Regions from separate parts of the Homo sapiens genome. Here region 2 is linked to region 1. A link means that fine-mapping ties the variant in region 1 to the plasma level of a protein whose gene starts in the linked region. Region 1 holds a variant in brackets. A gene starts in the other region. All regions are shown on one strand. Distances are from middle to middle.

Region 1 (9,784 bases):
ATTAGCTGGGCGTGGTGGCGGGCACCTGTACTCCCAGCCACTCGGGAGGCTGAGGCAGAGAATTGCTTGAACCTGGGAGGCAGAGTTTGCAGTGAGCCGAGTTCGCGCCACTGTACTCCAGCCTGGGAGACGAAGCGAGACTCTGTCTCAAAAAAAAAAAAAAAAAAAAAAAAAAAAGGAAATATCTTGGGAATTCAGGCTGGGGTGACTTTGTGTTTGTGAAGAGTCTCCTAAGAAGCTATGGAGGTTACTTTATATTCTCTAGCTAATGGAGAGTCACCAAAGGTTGGTTGGTTGATTTGTTTTTTTGAGACAGAGTCTCGCACTGTCGCCCCGGGCTGGAGTGCAAAGGCGCGATCTCGGCTCACTGCGACCTCCGCCTTCCCGGTTCACACGATTCTCCTGACTCAGGCTCCCGAGTAGCTGAGATTACAGGCGCACACCACCACACCCGGCTAATTTTTTGTATTTTTAGTAGAGACGGGGTTTCACTATGTTGACCAGATGTGTCTTGAATTCCTGACCTCGTGATCCGCTCGCCTCGGCCTCCCAAAGTGTTGGGATTACAGGCGTGAGCCACCGCGCCTGGCCTTTTTTTTTTTTGAGACGGAGTCTCGCTCTGTCCTCCAGGCTGGAGTGCAGTGGCGCGATCTCGGCTCACTGCCAGCTCCGCCTCCCGGGTTCACACCATTCTCCTGCCTTAGCCTCCGAGTAGCTGGGACTACAGGCGCCCGCCACCATGCCCGGCTAATTTTTTTGTATTTTTAGTAGACACGGGGTTTCACCGTGTTAGCCAGATGGTCTCAATCTCCTGACCTCATGATCCAACCGCCTCGCCTCCCAAAGTGCTGGGATTACAGGTGAGAGCAACCGCGCACGCCTGGCCTTTTTTAAAAAATCAACTTCATTAAGGCATAATTTACATACAATATAATATATAGATTTTAAGTATACAGTTCAGAGTTTTGATAAATGCATACATTTGTATAACCATTACCCTAATCAAGATAGATAACCTTTTTTTTTTTTGAGACAGGGTCTAACTGTGTTGCCCAGGCTGGGGTGCAGTGGTATGATCTCAGCTCACTGTAGCCTCAACCTCCTGGATTCAAGTTATCCTCCCACCTTAGCCTCCCCAGTAGCTGGGACTACAGGTGTGTGCCACCACACCCAGCTAATTTTATTTTTTGCAGAGATGAGGTCTCACTATGTCATCCAGTCTGGTCTCAGACCCCTGGGCTTATGTGATCCTCCAGCCTCAGCCTCCCAAAATGCTGGGATTACAGGTGTGAGCCACTGTGCCTAGCTGATACAGAACATTTCTGTCACCTCTAAGTCCTCTTGTGCCCCTTTGTCGTTGATTCTGCCTCTTCCCACAGGTAATATTGTTGTGATTTCTACTCCCGTATGTTTTGGTTATAGATTGTTGTATCTGTAGATCGTTTTGTCACCCCAAAACCCAGTGGCTTAAAAGAATAAAAATCATTGGCTGGGCGCGGTAGCTCATGCCTATGATCCCAGCACTTTGGGAGGCCGAGGTGGGTGGAACACGAGGTCAGGACTTCAAGACCAGCCTGGCCAACGTGGCGAAACCCTGTCTCTATTAAAAATACAAAAATTAGCTGGGCGTGGTGGCAGGCGCCTGTAATCCCAGCTACTCGGGAGGCTGAGGGAGGACAATCGTTTGAACCCAAGAGGTGGAGGTTGCAGTGAGCTGAGATCGCGCCATTGCACTCTAGCCTGGGCGGCGCGAGACTCTGTCTCAAAAAAAAAAAAAAAAAAAAAAGAATAAAAATCATTTATTTGCTCATGATTTTGCAATTTGGTCATGGTTTAGTGGAATCAATTTGTCTGCTTTGTGGGTCACCTGGGGTAGCTTGACTGGGGCTGGAGAATTCACTTCACTTACATGGCTGGAGAGTTGGGATAGGCTCTGGGCTGGGAGCTCAACTAGAACTGTCTTCCACGTGGCTGTTTGGGTTTCCTTACAACATGGTGGGTGAGTACCAAGAAGGAGAAAGTTGAAGCTACCAGTGCTTGTAAAGACCAGACGCAAAACTGGTACAACATCACTTCAGCTGTATTCTACTGACCAAAGCAGGCATGAGCCTAGAAGAAATTCAAGGGGATGGAAAAATAAATTCCACTTTTCAGTGGGGAGAGTGACAAAGATGGGCCATCTTTATTCCACCACATCATAGATTAATTTTGTCTGTTCTAGAATGTCCTACAGAATGGAATCATACACTGTGTTTTAATATATGTCTGGCTTTTTTTGCTTATTATGTGTTTTGAGATTCATCTATATTGTTTTTTCCTTTTTTTTTTTTTTAAATAGAGATGGCTGGGGGGTTTCACTATGTTGCCCAGGTTGGTCTTGAACTCCTGGGCTCAAGTGATACTTCCACCTCAGCCTCCCAAAGTGTTGGGATTACAGGCCTGAGCCACTGCACCCAGCCATTCAACTATATTGTTGATATATCAGCAGTTCATTCCTTTTTATTGACAAACTCCAGAACTCCATTCTTTTTTTTATTGCTGAATATAGTCCATTGATAATCAATTTGTTTACTTATTTATCTGTTGATGGACATTTGAGTTGTTTCTAGTTTTTGGTTATTATGAATAAAGCTGTTATAAAATTTTTAATACAATAGTTTTTTGTGTGCTGGGCACAGTGGCCCAGGCCTGTAATCCTAGCATTTTGGGAGGCCGAGGTGGGTGTATTGTTTGAGCTCAGGAGTTCCAGACCAGTCTGAGCAACATAGCAATACCTTGTCTCTACTAAAAATAAAAGAAATTTTAGCTGGATGTGGTGGCGCACACCTGTAGTCACAGCTACTTGGGAGGCTGAGGCTGGAGGATTGCTTGATCCTGGAGGTTGAGAGTGCAATGAGCTGTGATCACGCTACCGCATTCCAGCCTGGGCAACAGAGTGAGACTCTGTCTCAAAGAAAGATACAAAGTTTTTTGTGGATATATGTTTTCATTTCTCTTGAGTAAATACCTAGGAGTTAAATTGCTAGGTGATAGAGTAAGTATATGTTAAATTTATAAACAATTGTCAAGCTGTTATCCAAAGGGTTGTACCCTTTTCTTTTTTTTTTTTTTTGATGGAGTTTTGCTTTTCATCCAGGCTGGAATAAAGTGGCGTGATCTTGGCTCACTGCAAACTCTTTCCCCCGGGTGCAAGTGATTCTCCTGCCTCAGCCTCCTGAGTAGCTGGGATTATAGGCGCCTGCCATCACGCCTGGCTAATTTTTGTATTTTTTAGTAGAGACAAGGTTTTGCCATGTTGACCAGGCTGGTCTCGAACTCCTGACCTCTGGTGATCCACCCGCCTCACCCTCCCAAAGTGCTGGGATTACAGGTGTGAGTCACTGCGTCTGACCAATTGTACGATTTTTTAATAGAGATGGGCTTTCACTCTGTTGTCTAGGATGAAGTAAAGCAGTGCAATCCTACCTCACTGCAGCCTGAATCTCCTAGGCTCAAGAGATCCTTCGACTTCAGCCTCCCAAGTAGCTGGGATCACAGGTGCACACCACCACTCCTGGCTAATTTTTAAATTTTTTTGTAGAGATGGGGTCTCACTATGTTGCCTAGGCCGAATTGTAGCAGTTTATACTCCCAGCAGCAATGTATGAGAGTTTTAGTTGCTACAAATCCTAGCCAACACTTGTTATTGTCAGTCTTTTTATTATTTATTTATTTATTTTTGAGATGGAGTCTTGCTCTTGTTGCCCAGGCTGGAGTGCAATGGTGTAATCTTGGCTCACTGCAACCTCCGCCTCCTGGGTTCAAGTGATTCTCCTGCCTCAGCCTCTGTAGCTGGGATTATAGGTGCCCACCACCACACCTGGCTAACTTTTGTATTTTTAGTAGAGACGGGGTTTTACCATGTTGGCCAGGTTGGTCTCGACCTCCTGACCTCAGGTGATTTGTCCGCATTGGCCTCCCAAAGTGCTGGAATTATAGGCATGAGCCACCACGTCTGACCTTGTCAGTCTTGTTAATTTTAGACATTGTAGAGGATGTGAACTGGTATCTCTTTGTGGTTTTAATTTGTATTTCCCTAATAACTGGTGGTGTTATGCATGTTTCATATGTTTATTGACCACTTGTAGATTTTCTTTGGTAAAATGTCAGTTCGTTTACTCATTTAAAAAATATTGGCCATTGAACACTTTCTGTTTTATGGAATGAATTATTTCCTGATTCTAGAACTGCAACAGGCTGGGCATGGTGGCTCATGCCTGTAATCCCAGCACTTTGGGAGGCCGAAGCGGGCGGATCACCTGAGATCAGGAGTTCGAGACCAGCCTGACCAACATGGAGAAACCCTGTCTCTACTAAAAATATAAAATTAGCCTGGCGTGGTGGCACATGCCTGTAATCCCAGCTACTAGGGAGGCTGAAGCAGGAGAATCGCTTGAACCTCGGAAGTGGAGATTGCGGTGAGCTGAGATCGTGCCATTGCACTCCAGCCTGGGCAACAAGAACGAAATTCCGTCTCTCAAAAAAAAAAAAAACAAAACCAAAAAACTCAAAAAACAAAACTGCAATAAAGCCAATTGAATTCTTTAAAAAAATATATATATTGGCCAAGACTACACTTTCAGGAATCATTTCTATAGTTTGTTACTAGAGAAGTTTCTCTGAATACGTAGAGCAAAATATATAATAAGACAAAAAGGGGGCCAGGCGCAGTGACTCATGCCTGTAATCCCAGAACTTTGGGAGGCCGAGGCAGGTGGATCATCAGGTCAGGAGATCAAAACCATCCTGGCTAACATGGTGAAACCCTGTCTCTACTAAAAATACAAAAAATTAGCCAGGTGGAGTGGCACACGCCTGTAGTCCCAGCTACTCAGGAGGCTGAGGCAGGAGAATCTCTTGAACCCAGGAGGCAGAGGTTGCAGTGAGCTGAGATCGCACCACTGCACTCCAGCATGGGTGACAGAGCGAGACTCCATCTGAAAAAAAAAAAGAAAAAGAAAAAGAAAAAAAGGCCTGTGGGCTGGGTGTGGTGGCTCATGCCTATAATCTCAGAACTTTGGGAGGCAGAGACAGGTGGATCA[A/C]CCTGAAGGCAGGAGTTCGAGACCAGCCTGACCAACAAGGTGAAACCCCTGTCTCTACTAAAAATACAAAAATTAGCCAGGCGTGGTAGCAGGAGCCTGTAATCCCAGCTACTAGGGAGGCTGAGGCAGGAGAATCGCTTGAATCTGGGAAGCAGAGGTTGCAGTAAGCCGAGATTGTGCCACTGCACTCCAGCCTGGGTGACAGAGCAAGAATCTGTCTGAAAAAAAGAAAAAAAAATGAGAAAAATATATTGGTCAGCCTGGGCAACATGGCCAAACCCTATCTCTACAAAAAATACAAAAAATTAGCCGGGGTGGTGCTGCATGCCTGTAGTCCCACTTACTCCCTAGTAAGTGGGAGGCTGAGGTGGGAGGATTACTTGAGCCCAGGAGGTTGAGGCTGCAGTGAGCTAAGCAGCTGTGATCTTGCAACTGCCCTCCAGCCTGGGTGACAGAGTGAAACCCTGTCTCCAAAAAAAAAAAAAAAATTGGATTTTTGTTTTATTATTATTACAGGGTTTTTTATTTATTTATTTTTTTTAAGACAGAGTCTCACTGTCGCCCAGGCTGGAGTGCAGTGGCACGATCTCAGATCATTGCAACCTCTGCCTCCCAGGTTTGAGTGATTCTCCTGCTCAGCCTCTCTTGTAACTGGGATTATAGGCTCCTGCCACCACGCCCGGCTAGTTTTTCTTGTTGTTGTTGTTGTTTTTTTTTTTTGTTTTAGAGGAAGTCTCACTCTTGTCCCCCAGGCTGGAGTGCAATGGCGCAATCTTGGCTCACTGCAACCTCCGCCTCCCGGGTTCAAGAGATTCTCCTGCCTCAGCCTCCAGAGTAGCTGGGATTACAGGTGCTTGCCAACATGCCCAGCTAATTTTTGTATTTTTAGTAGAGACCGGGTTTCACCAGGTTGGCCAGACTGGTCTTGAACTCCTGACCTCAGGAGATCCACCTGCCTCGGCCTCCCAAAGTGCTGGGATTATAGGCGTGAGCCACTGCACCTGGCCATTTTCCTGTATTTTTAGTAGAGAGGGGATTTCACCATGTTGGCCAGGCTGGTCTCGAACTCCTGACCTCAGGTGACCACCTGCCTCGGCCTCCCAAATTGCTGGGATTACAGGTGTGAGCCACCGCACCTGGCCTATTACAGGGTTCTTAATATATTGTGGATTTTTGTCCTTTGTTAGATATATGTATTGTGACTACATGTTAATGACTCAGAAGTCTCAATATTAAAATATTAATTATTCATGAATTGATCTATAGATCCAATGCCATTCCACTAAAAATCCTAATTTTCATAGAAGTTGATGAGCCAATTCTAAAATTTACATGAAAATGCAAGGGCCAAGTGCAGTGGCTCACGCCTGTAATCTCAGCAATTTAGAAGGTCAAGGCAGGAGGATTGCTTGAGCCTAGGAGTTTGAGACTAGCCTGGGCAACATGGTGAGACTCCTGTCTCCATAAAAAAACTTCAAAAATTAGCCAGGTGTGGTGGTGCATAACCCTAGCTACTTGGGAGGCTGAGGTGGAAGGATTCCTTCAGCCTGCAAGGTCCAGGCTGCAGTGAGCCATGTTCATGCCACTGCATTGCAGCCTGGAATAGCCAAAACAGTTTTGAAAAAGATAAGTTGAAGGACCTATACTACCGACCTCAAGACATATTATAGTTACAGAAATTAAGGCAGCATAGCAGTAGTAAATGGACAAATTAGGTCAGTTGAACAGAATACAACCTAGAAATAGACCCAAACATATATAGACAATTGATTTTTGACAAAGGTGTTATGATGGACCAGCCTCTAATGATGGACCCTAATCTATCAGGTCACACTCAATAGAGATTACGTGGCATTGAATATCATGATTCCTACCTCCAGGTATTCACATCCATATGTAATCTCTCTTGAGTGTGGGCTGATAGGTGTCAGAGGATGTCACTACTAGAGTTAGGTTTAAAAGAGACTATGGCTTACATTTTGGGGTAACTGTATCTCTCTTGGATTGTTTACTATCAGTAAAGCTAGCTGCCATGTTGTAAGGTAGGCCTGTGGAGAGGCCTATGGGGCAGGGAACCAAGGCCTGCCAAGAAGCACAAAGGAGCTTGGAAGCAGACTCCCCTCACGTTGAGTCAAGCCTTCAGTTGAGACTACAACCCTGGCCAACAGCTTGACTGGAACCTCTTGAGACACTCTGAGCCACTGGCAACCTGGTATGCTGTGCCCAGATTCCTTAACCACAAAAACAATGAGGTAATAAGTATTTGTTGTTTTAAGCTGCTAAATTTTAGAGGTAATTTGTTATACAGTAACAGACAACTAATACAGATGTCAAGGTACTTCAAAGAGGGAAAATAATGTTCAACAAACAGTGTTGGATCAACTTGACATCATTATGAAATAAATGAATCTCAACCCCTACCTCACACCATACACAGATTTTTTAATTTTTATTTATTTTATTTATTTATTTATTTATTTATTTATTTATTTATTTATTTATTTTGAGATGGAGTCTCGCTCTGTCGCCCAGGCTGGAGTGCAGTGGCACCATCTCAGCTCACTGCAAGGTCCGCCTCCCGGGTTCACACAGGTTTTGTAGCCTGGCAAAGTTACTGGAATGGTGGTGATACTACCCATGTAGAGGAATGCTGTAGTACTTGTGTGTAGTGGTGAAGGGACGGATAATTAGCTTGGCTTTGGAAATGCTGAGTTTCAGATGTCTATGGGAAGTTCTGCCTAAGCGAATCCCTCCCTTTTTTAAGGGTAAATGATGAAGCTAGTAGAGGTTCTATGGAACCACTGGAAGGAGGCCAGGAAGACAGCATCCGAAATATTGTTATATAAGTGAAGAGCGAGTTTTGAGGTGTCTTTACTTTGAGATATTCATATAAAAATTTTTAGTCTCCTTGAAGTTCAGGCACAGGTGCCCTCTCTAATCGTCTATCAGCATTATTTTACTGCAATAATGTCTACAGCTCAGCATTTTAACATGTTAAGAAAAAAAATGAAATGAAGGTGGGAGACAATGTAAATATATATACCAACAGATGGGCAGTAGTCACCAAGGATTCCAAAAAAGATCTGTGGTACACGAATCTGTTAGTGTTCCTCTAGCACTGTCTAGGGGAGAAACAGAATAGTGGAGAAAAAAGATTCAACAATGTGCTGTATTGCACAGAGTACAGGGTGCTAGTTTGAATGCAACCTTACCACTAACGAGCACTCACATTCATAGAGTTCATCATATTTATCAGGGATTATGACAGGTGTTCTAAATATTTTGATCTGAGAATCATTATGACAATCCAAAGACAATCCAGGCCGGGCGTGGTAGCTCATGCCTGTAATCCCAACTACTTGGGAAGCTGACAAAGGAGAATCCCTTGAACCCGGGAGTCGGAGGTTGCAGTGAGCTGTGACTGCGCCATTGCACTCCAGCCTGGGCAACCAGAGTGAAACTCCATCTCAAAACACACACACACACACACACACACACACACACACACACACAAGCCAGGTACAGTGGCTCACGCTTGTAATCCCAGCACTTTGGGAGGCCGAGGCGGGCGGATCATGAGGTCAGGAGTTCGAGACCAGCCTGGCCAACATGGTGAAACCCTGTCTCTACTAAAAATAAAAATTAGCCAGGCGACGTGGTGTGCGCCTGTAATCCCAGCTACTCTGGAGGCTGAGGCAGGAGAATTGTTTGAACCCAGGAGGCGGAGGTTGCAGTGAGACGAGATTGCACCATTGCACTCCAGCCTGGGCAAGAGAGTGAGACTCTGTCTAAAAAGCAAACAAACAAACAAAAAAACAAAAAAACAAAAAAACAAAGACAATCCAAACTGGCCTCAATTTGCAGTCAAAGGAACTGAAAATCAAAAAGTTCAAAAACGGGCAGGCGTGGTGGCTCACGCCAGTAATCCCAGCATTTTGGGAAGCCTAGGCAGGCAGATCACCTGAGGTCGGAAGTTCGAGACCATCCTGGCCAATATGGTGAATGAAACCCCATCTCTACTAAAAATACAAAAATTGCCAGGCATGGTAGCAGGCGCCTATAATCCCAGCTACTCAGGAGGATGAGACACCAGAATCGCCTGAACCCGGGAGATGGAGGTTGCAGTGAGCTGAGATCACGCCTTTGTAATCTAGCCTGGGCAACAGAGACTCGGTCTCAAAAAAAAAAAAAAAAAAAAAAAGTTCAAAAACCTGTTCACCACAATCAGAGTGCAGGAAGAAAAAGAGCTGCAAGTTGACATGGATCTGTCTGACTTCAAACCTTGGGTTCTTTCCACTATAGCCAATAGGTCCCAAACCCAGTTGTGCATAACAATTACCTGAAGAACGTGTTAAGATATATTTTTCCAGATTCCCACTCAAGACTGACTCAGAAAATGATACTACTAGTATAGCACTTTTCTCTGAGTTGTTGTAAGGATTATATATAATGAAGAATATTGGAATGTTTTATAAACTTCAAGTGTAACATCATATGCTTACAATTTAATGCTTTTTATTACGTATGATCATCTAATACCCTTTCTTTTGGTTTTCTAGTCAGGGAATAATTTTCTGATAATTAGGCTTATGGAGTACCTTGAAATTAGAAAAGGGTGCCCCAAACTATATTTTGGCTTGATAACCACATTATAAATGAATACATTTAATTTTTAATCTATAAATAAGAGCTCTTGAGCTTGA
Region 2 (9,784 bases), 27 Mb after region 1:
AATACAGCATTATGAAAATATGGGATAGGGAAGATATGATACATTCTAACTGGAGGGATGATGGAGGGGAGATTCCCAGCAGATGTGGCATTTGAGCCTTGAAACAGAATTTTGACAGCTCTAGGGGAAGAGGGTGGGGGAAAGTGGGGAAGGATTCTTTTCCTTTAGGTTGGAAGAGCATGTGTTGCTATTTATTAAGTCTTTATTGAGCACCAGCAAGGTGTTGTGTAAAATAGACAGCATAAAAACAACTATAAAGGGGAGATAAAATACATCCCTGAAAAAAAGTCATAACAGTAAATGATACTGTTTGATTACCTATCAAAACAGTCTACAGAATCCAGAGGTGAAGCAGAAATGCAGGCTACTTTTCTCTGGGTAGTGAATTAGCCACTTCAAAAATATTTCAGTGAAGTCAGTAAAGGAAAACATGAGGCATAATAAGACATTTCTACCACTAGCCCTCCTTTCTTCACTAGATTTTGTAAAAAGTTACTGTTTCTATTTTTAATTACATGAGTAATCTTGCTTCAAAAAATTCAAGGGATAAGAAAAAGTAAAAAGCAAAATTCTCCCTTCAAAATCCCCTGTTCTCCTCCAATCTCATTTCTCTTTCTGGAAGTAAGCACTATTATCAGCTTACTGTGTTTCCTTCCAGAATGATTTCAGATGAATTCATGGAAATATGTAACTGGTGTAATTTTGCATAAGTGGATATATGTGTTTTTCTGAACTTTTTTACTCAACACCATATTTTAGAGAATTTTATATGTTAGCACATAGACCATGGAGTACAGAGCTACAACATTTTTTTTTTTAAACTGGAATTCCACAATTAGGATATACCTTGGCTATTTCACCGTTTCCTTTTTAATGGTTAACAAGATGAAAACTGCTAAAGTCTTATTGGGGTTTTTATAACCAAACAAGGGAAAAACGACTCCAACTCTGGGCCTAAAAGACATCCTACTTGAACCTCTCACTTGCAGTTCCTCATTCAATCCCCAAACTGCAGTGTGTTTCACAAATCCAGTCTCCTAAGTGAAGGGAAAGCAGGAAACCCTTGACGAATTCAGTAGTAATACAATGAGATAAGTATGTGCTGTGATTCTTAACTCCTAGCCTTCTCCAAAGGGACCAGTGATCATCTAGGGATAAATATGCACTGAAAAAAAAGGAAAATCGCAGTATGCCACAGTAGTTCACTGGTTAGAGTGGGGTTTACAGGGGTGAAGTAATTAAAGGAATTTTAACCCAAGTCCACCTTACAGTAAGTTCGATGGAACCCTAAACCCTTCCAGTGTTTTTTCCCCAATTCCTGAGTGTACATTTAAAGGACATAAGGCAGAATCTTCACATTGGTTTCCTAACCTTTAGAACAAGGGTGAGCAAGATAGAAAAGACTATGAAGAATCCACAGAGCTTTATTACACTCTCCAACCCCCAATCAAAATAGTAATGCACAAGTTATAACAATCCCTTGTTGACTAGCTATAGTGTCACCCTAAAATATCTGAATCAATTATCTTAATTTATACCTGCCTTCCAGCTTGACTGGTAATGAAAACAGATGGACCTGGAAGAATGACTGACAATTATTAACTCAATTAAGTAGTGTACCCAACTGCAGGTGCCTTTCCAAGCATGGTCTCTTTCAAGGAACAAATCAACAGAGACCCTTGTATGTAGCTATTGCTTACGCAAATGCTTTCTCCTCCTCCATTTAACAAGCACTTACTGTCTTACAGTTTCTGTGAGTCAGGAATCTAAGCGTGGCTTAGCTGGGTGCCTCCATCTCTGGGTTTCTCAGGCAGCTACAATCAAGATGTCAGCCGGGCTGTGGTCAACTCCAGGCTCACCTGGGGAGAATCTATTACCAAGTTCACTCACCTGATTGTTGTCAGGCCTCAGGTCCTTACTGGCTGTTGGCTGGAGACATTGGTTCCTCAACATGTGTCCGGAATTGGTGGGTTCTTGGTCTAACTTAAAGAATGAAGCCGTGGATCCTCGTGGTGAGTGTCACAGTTCTTAAAGGCAGCATGTCCGGAATTTGTTCCTTCTGATGTTCGGATGTGTTTGGAGTTTCTTCCTTCTGGTGGATTCGTGGTCTAGCTGGACCAGGAGTGAAGCTGTAGACCCTCATGGTGAGTGTTACAGCTCTTATGGTGGCCCATCTGAGTTGTTCATTCATCCCGGTGGGTTCGTGGTCTCACTGGCTTCAGGAGTGAAGCGGCAGACCTTCGCAGCGAGTGTTACAGCTTATAAAGGCAGTGTGGGCCCAGAGTAAACAGCAGCAAGAGTTATTGCAAAAAGCGAAAGAACAAACCTTCCACACGACAGAAAGAGACTCCATAGGGTTACTACTGCTGGCTCGGGCAGCCTGCTTTTATTCCCTTATCTGGCCCCACCCACATCCTGCTGATTGGTTCACTTTACAGAGAGCTGATTGGTCCGTTTTGACAGGGTGCTGATTGGTGCATTTACAATCCCTGAGCTAGACACAAAAGTTCTCCAAGTCCCCACTAGATTAGCTAGACACGGGGTGCTGATTGGTGCATTTACAAACCTTGAGCTAGACACAGAGTGCCCATTGGTGCATTCACAATCCCTTAGCTAGACATAAAGGTTCTCCAAGTCCCCACCAGACTCAGGAGCCCAGCTGGCTTCACCCAGTGGATCCCACACCCAGGCGCAGGTGGAGCTGCCTGCCAGTCCCCGGCCCTGCGCCCGCACTCCTCAGCCCTTGGGCGGTCGATGGGACTGGGCGCCGTGGAGCAGGGAGCGGCGCTCCTCAGGGAGGCTCAGGCATGGCAGGCTGCAGGTCCCGAGCCCTGCCCTGCGGGGAGGCAGCTAAGGCCTGGCGAGAAATCGAGCACAGCAGCTCCTGGCCCAGGTGCTAAGCTCCCCCCAACTGCCCGTGGCCAGCGGGGACGGCCGGCCGCGCTGAGTGCCGGGCCCACCGAGCCCGCCGAGCCCACGCCCACCCGGAACTCGGGCTGGCCCGCAAGCGCCGTGCGCAGTCTCAGTTTCCGCCGGCGCCTCTAGTCTTGCTTCCCTCCAGTCCATTCTTCATGCTACAGGAAGAGTGAGTTTTCTGGAATACAAATCTAATCACAACCGTTCCCAGCTCAAAACCTAGCAGTACTCTAGTACTGGTGCCTCAGACTAAAATCCAAGCCCCTTGCTTCCTGAGGCAGAGATGAGTGTACGTGAATTTTTAAAAATAACCATACAGAAAAACAGATTCTTTGGGATGTGCAGTTCTGCGAATTTTTATTTTTATTTATTTTTTTGAGGTGGAGTCTTGCTCTGTCGCCCAGGCTGGAGTGCAGTGGCACGATCTCGGCTCACTGCAACCTCTGCTTCCCGGGTTCAAGTGATTCTCCTGCCTCAGTCTCCCAAGTAGCTGGGACTACAGGCGTGTGCCACCACCCACGCCTGGCTAATTTTGTATTTTTAGTAGCCACGAAGTTTCACTATGTTGGTCAGGCTGGTCTCGAACTCCTGACCTCAGGTGGTCCGCCCACCTCGGCCTCCCAAAGTGCTGGGATTACAGGAGTGAGCCACCGTGCCCGGCCTTCTGTGAATTTTAACACATGTATAGATTCTTGTGGCCACTGCCATCTATTAGTCCCCAAAACAACCTCATGCTATCCTTTCATAGTCGTACTCTCCCTCATCCCTACCCCTATCTTTTTAAGAAGGTCAAAGAAATGGAATGTGATCTTTTGAAAAACAAAAACACCCAAGCCCCTTAGGGCGTTTTTAATGCCCTTGCCTACCTCTCCTCCCTGTCCTCCAACAACTGCCCTCCCAAGCCCCACAATGCAACTCGCCGGAACTATGCTCAGTTCTTGGGGTGCTCCAAGCTGTCCTCCACTTAGCCAAGCTCCCCACCCGCTTCCGGGGGTGGGTTTCCACTGTGCACAACAGTACCTAGCGCTTCCCCCACTACAGCCCCCTTTCACGCTGTGGTAATTGCCAGGTTATCTGCCTCTCCCATTACAGTTCCTTCCTCACAGGGACCGCGTTTAAACCACGGCGGTATCCCTACCGCGCAGGATGGGCCGAGCCCCGCACGCCCCGAGGCAGCACCCCGCACGCAGTAGCCGGGCGTCGAGGCGTTCCCAGCCCACACCAGGCGCGGACCTACGAAGGCGGAGCGAGCATGCGCACTAGGAAGGGGCGGGGCGGGGCGCGCGCGATCCCCCGCCCCCTGCACGCGGTCCCAGGAGGGGCGGGCCTTGGCCGCTCGCTCTCCCCTCCCCCATGCCGCTGCGCTTGCGCGCTGGGGACAACCGTTGCTGGGTGTCCCAGGGCCTGAGGCAGGACGGTACTCCGCTGACACCTTCCCTTTCGGCCTTGAGGTTCCCAGCCTGGTGGCCCCAGGACGTTCCGGTCGCATGGCAGAGTGCTACGGACGACGCCTATGAAGCCCTTAGTCCTTCTAGTTGCGCTTTTGCTATGGCCTTCGTCTGTGCCGGCTTATCCGAGTGAGTGACGGGCCTGAGGAGGCAGCGGACCGGGGACACCCTGGGGGAACTTCCCGAGCTCCGCGACCTCGAAGCCTGGCCCTTCCTTCTCCCTGGTCCTACATGCCTCCCTCCCCCACTGTCCGGGGTCCTGGCCTCGACGCCGAGGGGTGTCCCTCTCCTCTCCTGGTCAGGGAACGCAGCAACTGAGGCGGCGCGGCCCAGATGAGACGGGAAGCGCCTGCGGGCCGTGGGCGCGGGTGGAACCCCCTCACCTCACCGGAGGCCTTCCTCTGCCCACCCGATCCTTCCCCAGCCATTGGGCGTGTGACCGTGCAGGGGTCGTGTGACAGCTGCTGGCCAGCTAGGAATGATTTTTACATTTTCTTCCTTTTTTTTTAATTATTATACTTTAAGTTCTAGGGTACATGTGCACAGCGTGCAGGTTTGTTACATATGTATCCATGTGCCATATTGGTGTGCTGCACCCATAACTTGTCATTTACATTAGGTATATCTCCTAATGCTATCCCTCCCCCCTCCCCCCACCCCACGGCAGGCCCTGGTGTGTGATGTTCTATTTTTGCATTTTCAAAGTAAATATGAAATGTACTCTTTCATGACTTGTGGAAAAGCATGACGCTCACATTTCATTGTTCGTGAATAAAGTTTTACTGGCACACCACCACGCTCATTCCTTTACGTATTGCCCATGGCTGCTTTCCCACGTTAGAACAACGGGGTTAAGTGGTTGCCACACAGTCTGGTCTGCAAAGACTGAAGTATTTACTCTCTGGCCCTGTACAGAAAAAAAGGTTGACCCGTACGGTAAAATTTGGAGAGCATGTGGATTGTGGGTCGCGGTCTGGGACACTCACCTGAGGATGCGCTCCCAGAGAGCATGCTTGCGCACACGGCATTCAAAGCCTTAGTTAAGCAGGATTATAACTTAAGACCTGCCAAGGAGCAATTTTTGTCCCTCCCCGAAAGCTGAAAACCAATAAGGTCAAATTCAGGGGTGCTAAGACTTTACTATATTAACAATATCATGTGGGCACCTTAAGGCACTTAGTATTTAAGTCAGGTAGGTGAGGCTTCCCCATTTAGTCTAACTGTAGTTCATTGTGGCATTTAGTAATGTTGGAGTTTGGTTTCACTTAAATCAATAAATACAATTTAACAGGTGTAAAAAAAGCGCTATCGTGCATGCTGATTATGCAAATCTATTTTTCAGAATTGCTAAACGATCTTAGTTAAAAATCAAATTTAAAAACTGAAAATACAACACAATCTAAATTATGAATAGTAATGGGAAAAGTTCTAGATGAAGTTCTAGGTAACTAAAGTTAGCTCTTTAAATACTAGCATTTATGATTTGTAGCTGTTTTTAATAAAAAGTTTTGTAAAATTTTTCTTCCTTGACATAGAGGACCAGAACATAATGAAGATGCTACTATCTTTTCTTGATGTCTGATGATCATTATTACTAACACCAGTTATTGCATTTTGGTAGTTGTAGATCAGCAAGTCACAAGTGACTAACATATATGGAGACTTTAACTGAAGTGACTTTAACACTGTCACACAGTACACTCTGGGACTGCTAGGTAGGAGTCCCTGGACACCCACTTAACTCAGTGCAGTCTCTTGCCTAACACCATAATTTTCCCCTCCCCCTCCCCTTCCCTTTTCCCCCCCTTTTTTTTTTGCCTGAGACAGGGTCTCACTCTCTAGCTCAGACTAGAGTGCAGTGGCCCGATCTCGGCTCACCGCAACCTCTGCCTCCCAGGCTCGAGGGATTCTCCCACCTCAGCCTCCTGAGTAGCTGGGATTATAGGCGCACGCCACTACCGCCTGGCTAATTTTTGTATTTCTAGTAGAGACGGGGTTTCACCATGTTGGCCAGGCTGGTCTCGAGCTCCTGACCTCAAATGATCCATCCGCCTCGGCCTTGCAAAGTGCTGGGATTACAGGCTTGAGCCACTGTGCCCAGCCAGCCTGTTGTCTTTCTTAGCACCCTATTCCCTAATCTTTCTTGGGAAGAAAGAAAAGGGTTGTAGGAAATGAAAAGACGCTTCCCAGAAAAAAGGAGTGATTTTGTGTTGAATATATAGATGTTATAAGACATAAGGAAACTATATACAGGTTGTAATCATAGAAGATGTCTTGGAATATGTAATTACCTTTCTTCTACAGAAGTGGATTAAGGAATATATAGAGCAGGCAGTGGTACATGGCTGCTTTCTCTGTATCTGTCTCTCTACTTTTTCTCTAATTTTAATTTTGTTTTTAAAATAAGTATACCAAAATGCGTATATCATTGAGCTTGATGTAAATCAGCTATGCATTCTTTTATATGGCCACTATTCAAACAATTGTTGGCGAGATGCAAAAGATAAGGTACATAGGTTTTTATAATGAAAAGTGCAGCTTTGACACATTTTTTCTAGACTACTAGACAGTTTTGAGGTTATTACGCAAACATCACGGGTGTATTAAGTAATTGCATTTATTGAAAACCTCAGTACTTCTTGTATCTGCCTATACCTTTCTAACAGGCCCAATCCAAGCTTAGCTAGTATTTGTTTAATCTAAATTCAGTTAGACATAAATGCAGCTTGGGTATACAGAAGTCGGCACTCCTTTACATACACACACACACATCCTGATGGTGCTGGAGAAACAACGTTTTACTATATAAAATTTTTATACATTCAGTTTCCTCTACCTGATTTTTCCATAGTTTTAAATACTTTGCCATTTTTAAATTTTTGAATGGGAAAGTATTTAATGTATTCCCTCTTTAATGTATTTGCACTGTGCAACTTACTTTACTTTTTAATGAGAATTCTTTTTGCTTTAAAAAAAAAAAAATGCACAGGCCGGGCACGGTGTCTTACACCTGTAATCCCAGCACTTTGGGAGGCTGAGGCGGGCAGATCACCTGAGCCCAGAAATTCAAGACCAGGCTGGGCAACATGGCGAAACCCCGTCTTTACAAAAAATACAAAAATTAGCCAGATGTGGTGGGGCAGGCCTGTAGTCCCAGCTATTCGGGAGGCTGAGGTGGGAGGATCACCTGAGCCCAGGAGGTAGAGGTTGCAGTGAGCTGAGATGGCGCCACTGCATTCCAGCCTGGCTGACAGAGTGAGACCTTGTCTCAAAAAAAAAAAAAAGCACAGTAACTTCTAAAGTAATATTAACATAATAGTTACATATTTAAATAATATCAACTACTATTAAAATTATATAATTGGCCTTTTTAAATTTTAAGTCATCAAATATTCATGGGCTGGCAGTGCAAACTAATTAAAATTAAAGTGTGTTAATATTAATTTAATATTAATATATGTTAATTTTTAAATGATTCAAACTTTGCATAATAAGTATAAATAAAATTAAAATATTAATTTTGGGGTATCTCCCAAATAAATTATTTCCTCTAGATCATCTCTTGGTATAGACTAGGAAAAATAGGGTTAGTCTAGGATTACAAAAGCTCTTATTTCTAGATTGGTATTATAAGAAGGCTCAATGTATCAGTCTTTGGCTTCTGTCATTGTGTTTAGGAAGGATTTTGTCCTAATGAACCACAGAAGGTAAGGGAAACAATAAGGCAGCAACCAGCAACAATTGTTTGAATCTATCACCAAATAAATTAAGAGGAAAAGAATATTCTTTTATTTCAAATACATTCTAAAGGTAAAGTTCACTGAGTTCTGGTGCTGCAAGTTCACTTAGCTAGTGCCCAAGGCTACAGCATTTAAAAGGTCTCTCAAACCTGTGAATAAACTGTCATGACACACTTTGTTAATGTTTGAGATAATGAGGAGCATGTCATCCAATAGGCAAGTGTCAAGAGAGTATTCTGTGGGGGAGTAGCAGGAAGTTTCATTAGCCTGTCCATTGATGTTTTATGGGGGAAAAAAGTCCTGTCTTTCTGTTCTGTTGATCATATTATCCCTTAAATGGATATACTTTAATCTCTTGATAATATATGTGAAATTAAACTTAAGCAACATTTTTTATCTCCAAATAAAATACTAGTTATTTGAAAAGAAAATATTTTCTTTTTTTTTTAGTATCACTATATATTTGAAGCATTTTAAAAACACACAATTTATTTAACCTAAGTATAGTTTTTTCCGAGCCTCAAATATTCATACCTTGACCATTTGGAGCCATTGTAAGCTGTCTTCTCTTGTTCTTTTGATAGGATCCCATATATTTTTAAAGACTTCTTGTTTTCTGATGTTAACTGATTGTTCCAAGCCCACTTTGTGTCTTTCCCACTCTATCTTTCTCACTCTGAATGGAATTAACTGTCTTTCCAAGGGGATGGAGAACATGGTATGAGAGACCAAAGTGCCTGCGATACATACTAGACTACTGCAGTGGGGAAATATTGTTATTTTTGTCATTTTAGTGAACAGAACTAGAAGAGAAAGATTTAAAATAATGAGTTTATTTTGGTTTCAATTATAACATTACTCATAGGATGCATCTTGATTTTTAACTCTTTATCCGCACTAGAATTGTAACATAATTTAATAAGGCTATTTTGGTTGTGTATTGTGGCAAAAATGACTGCTCCCCAAATTTATCATTTTTCATGATTCTATGGGTTCACTAGACTCAGCTGGGCAGCTCTGCTTCATATGGTATAGCTGAGGTCACTCATGCAGCTGCATTCAGCTGGAAGTTCAAATGGATAGGAACATCCCAGATGGCCTCTCATCCTCCAGGGTCTTTACATGACTTCTCATCTTTCAGTACTCTAGCCCAAGTTTCTTTACACCATGGCAGCTTGCTTCCAAGAAGGAGATTTATAAGCCCCAACATGGATGCTCTTACGAAGCCTACACTGTATCAGACTTGCTAATGTCCTATAGGCCAAGACAAGTCACATGGGGCAAGCCCATATCCAATGTCAGAAGACACTACCCAAGAACATGAATAGCAGGAAGTGTAAAGCCATAAAGTTACATTTCTTTAACTGGAACACTTGATTAATATGAACATAATTACTTGTTTATTTACCTGTCAGCAAAAATTAAGATTTGTGTAATAATAAATTATAAGAAAATTGCTGGATGAATAAGAAGATTTAATATTTCCTTTTATGACCATTCCTTGAGTACACCTCAGTAATTAAGCACAATTATTACTACTTTGAGTTGGAAATACAGTACTCCAGCTCAGTTCGTTTTAAAATTTTAACCTTCATAAAAGTTCATTTTAATTTGAAGGTGTTGGATATTTTAACTGGTAGTTCTTGCATTATTACAGCTTTCAGTTATTAATTCTTACTT

Which allele goes with the higher level. Positions count from the first base shown, and alleles are read on the strand shown. Strength reflects both the effect of a copy and how common the allele is.
For the plasma level of the protein whose gene starts at base 4,301 in region 2, C is the low allele of the variant in region 1 and A is the other (moderate association).

What was found. A credible set is the group of variants that fine-mapping cannot tell apart. PIP is the chance, under the fine-mapping model, that this variant and not a neighbour inherited with it causes the effect. Protein levels are from antibody-based Olink assays in UK Biobank. Linkage for the fine-mapping came from a reference panel and not from the study's own genotypes, which makes the PIPs less certain.
Region 2: SPESP1 starts here. The variant in region 1 is the best candidate, but not a certain one, in a credible set for the plasma level of the SPESP1 protein (UK Biobank, PIP 0.79).

Annotation. Positions count from the first base shown.
Region 1 is chr15:41,610,626-41,620,409 of GRCh38, forward strand. LOC105370791 (a long non-coding RNA gene) reads right to left here. Exons shown (of 4, transcript NR_188233.1): 2 at 1,910-2,109. It also overlaps the pseudogene LOC124903614. Among named protein-coding and RNA genes, the nearest start is that of MGA, 45 kb to the right of the region's middle. The variant A/C (reference allele first, on the strand shown) is at 5,082.
Region 2 is chr15:68,926,225-68,936,008 of GRCh38, forward strand. It overlaps SPESP1 (sperm equatorial segment protein 1), which reads left to right and starts at 4,301. Exons shown (of 2, transcript NM_145658.4): 1 at 4,301-4,493. The coding sequence starts at 4,430. SPESP1-NOX5 (SPESP1-NOX5 readthrough) reads left to right here and starts at 4,301. Exons shown (of 17, transcript NR_033672.2): 1 at 4,301-4,493. RefSeq lists a silencer at 977-1,177.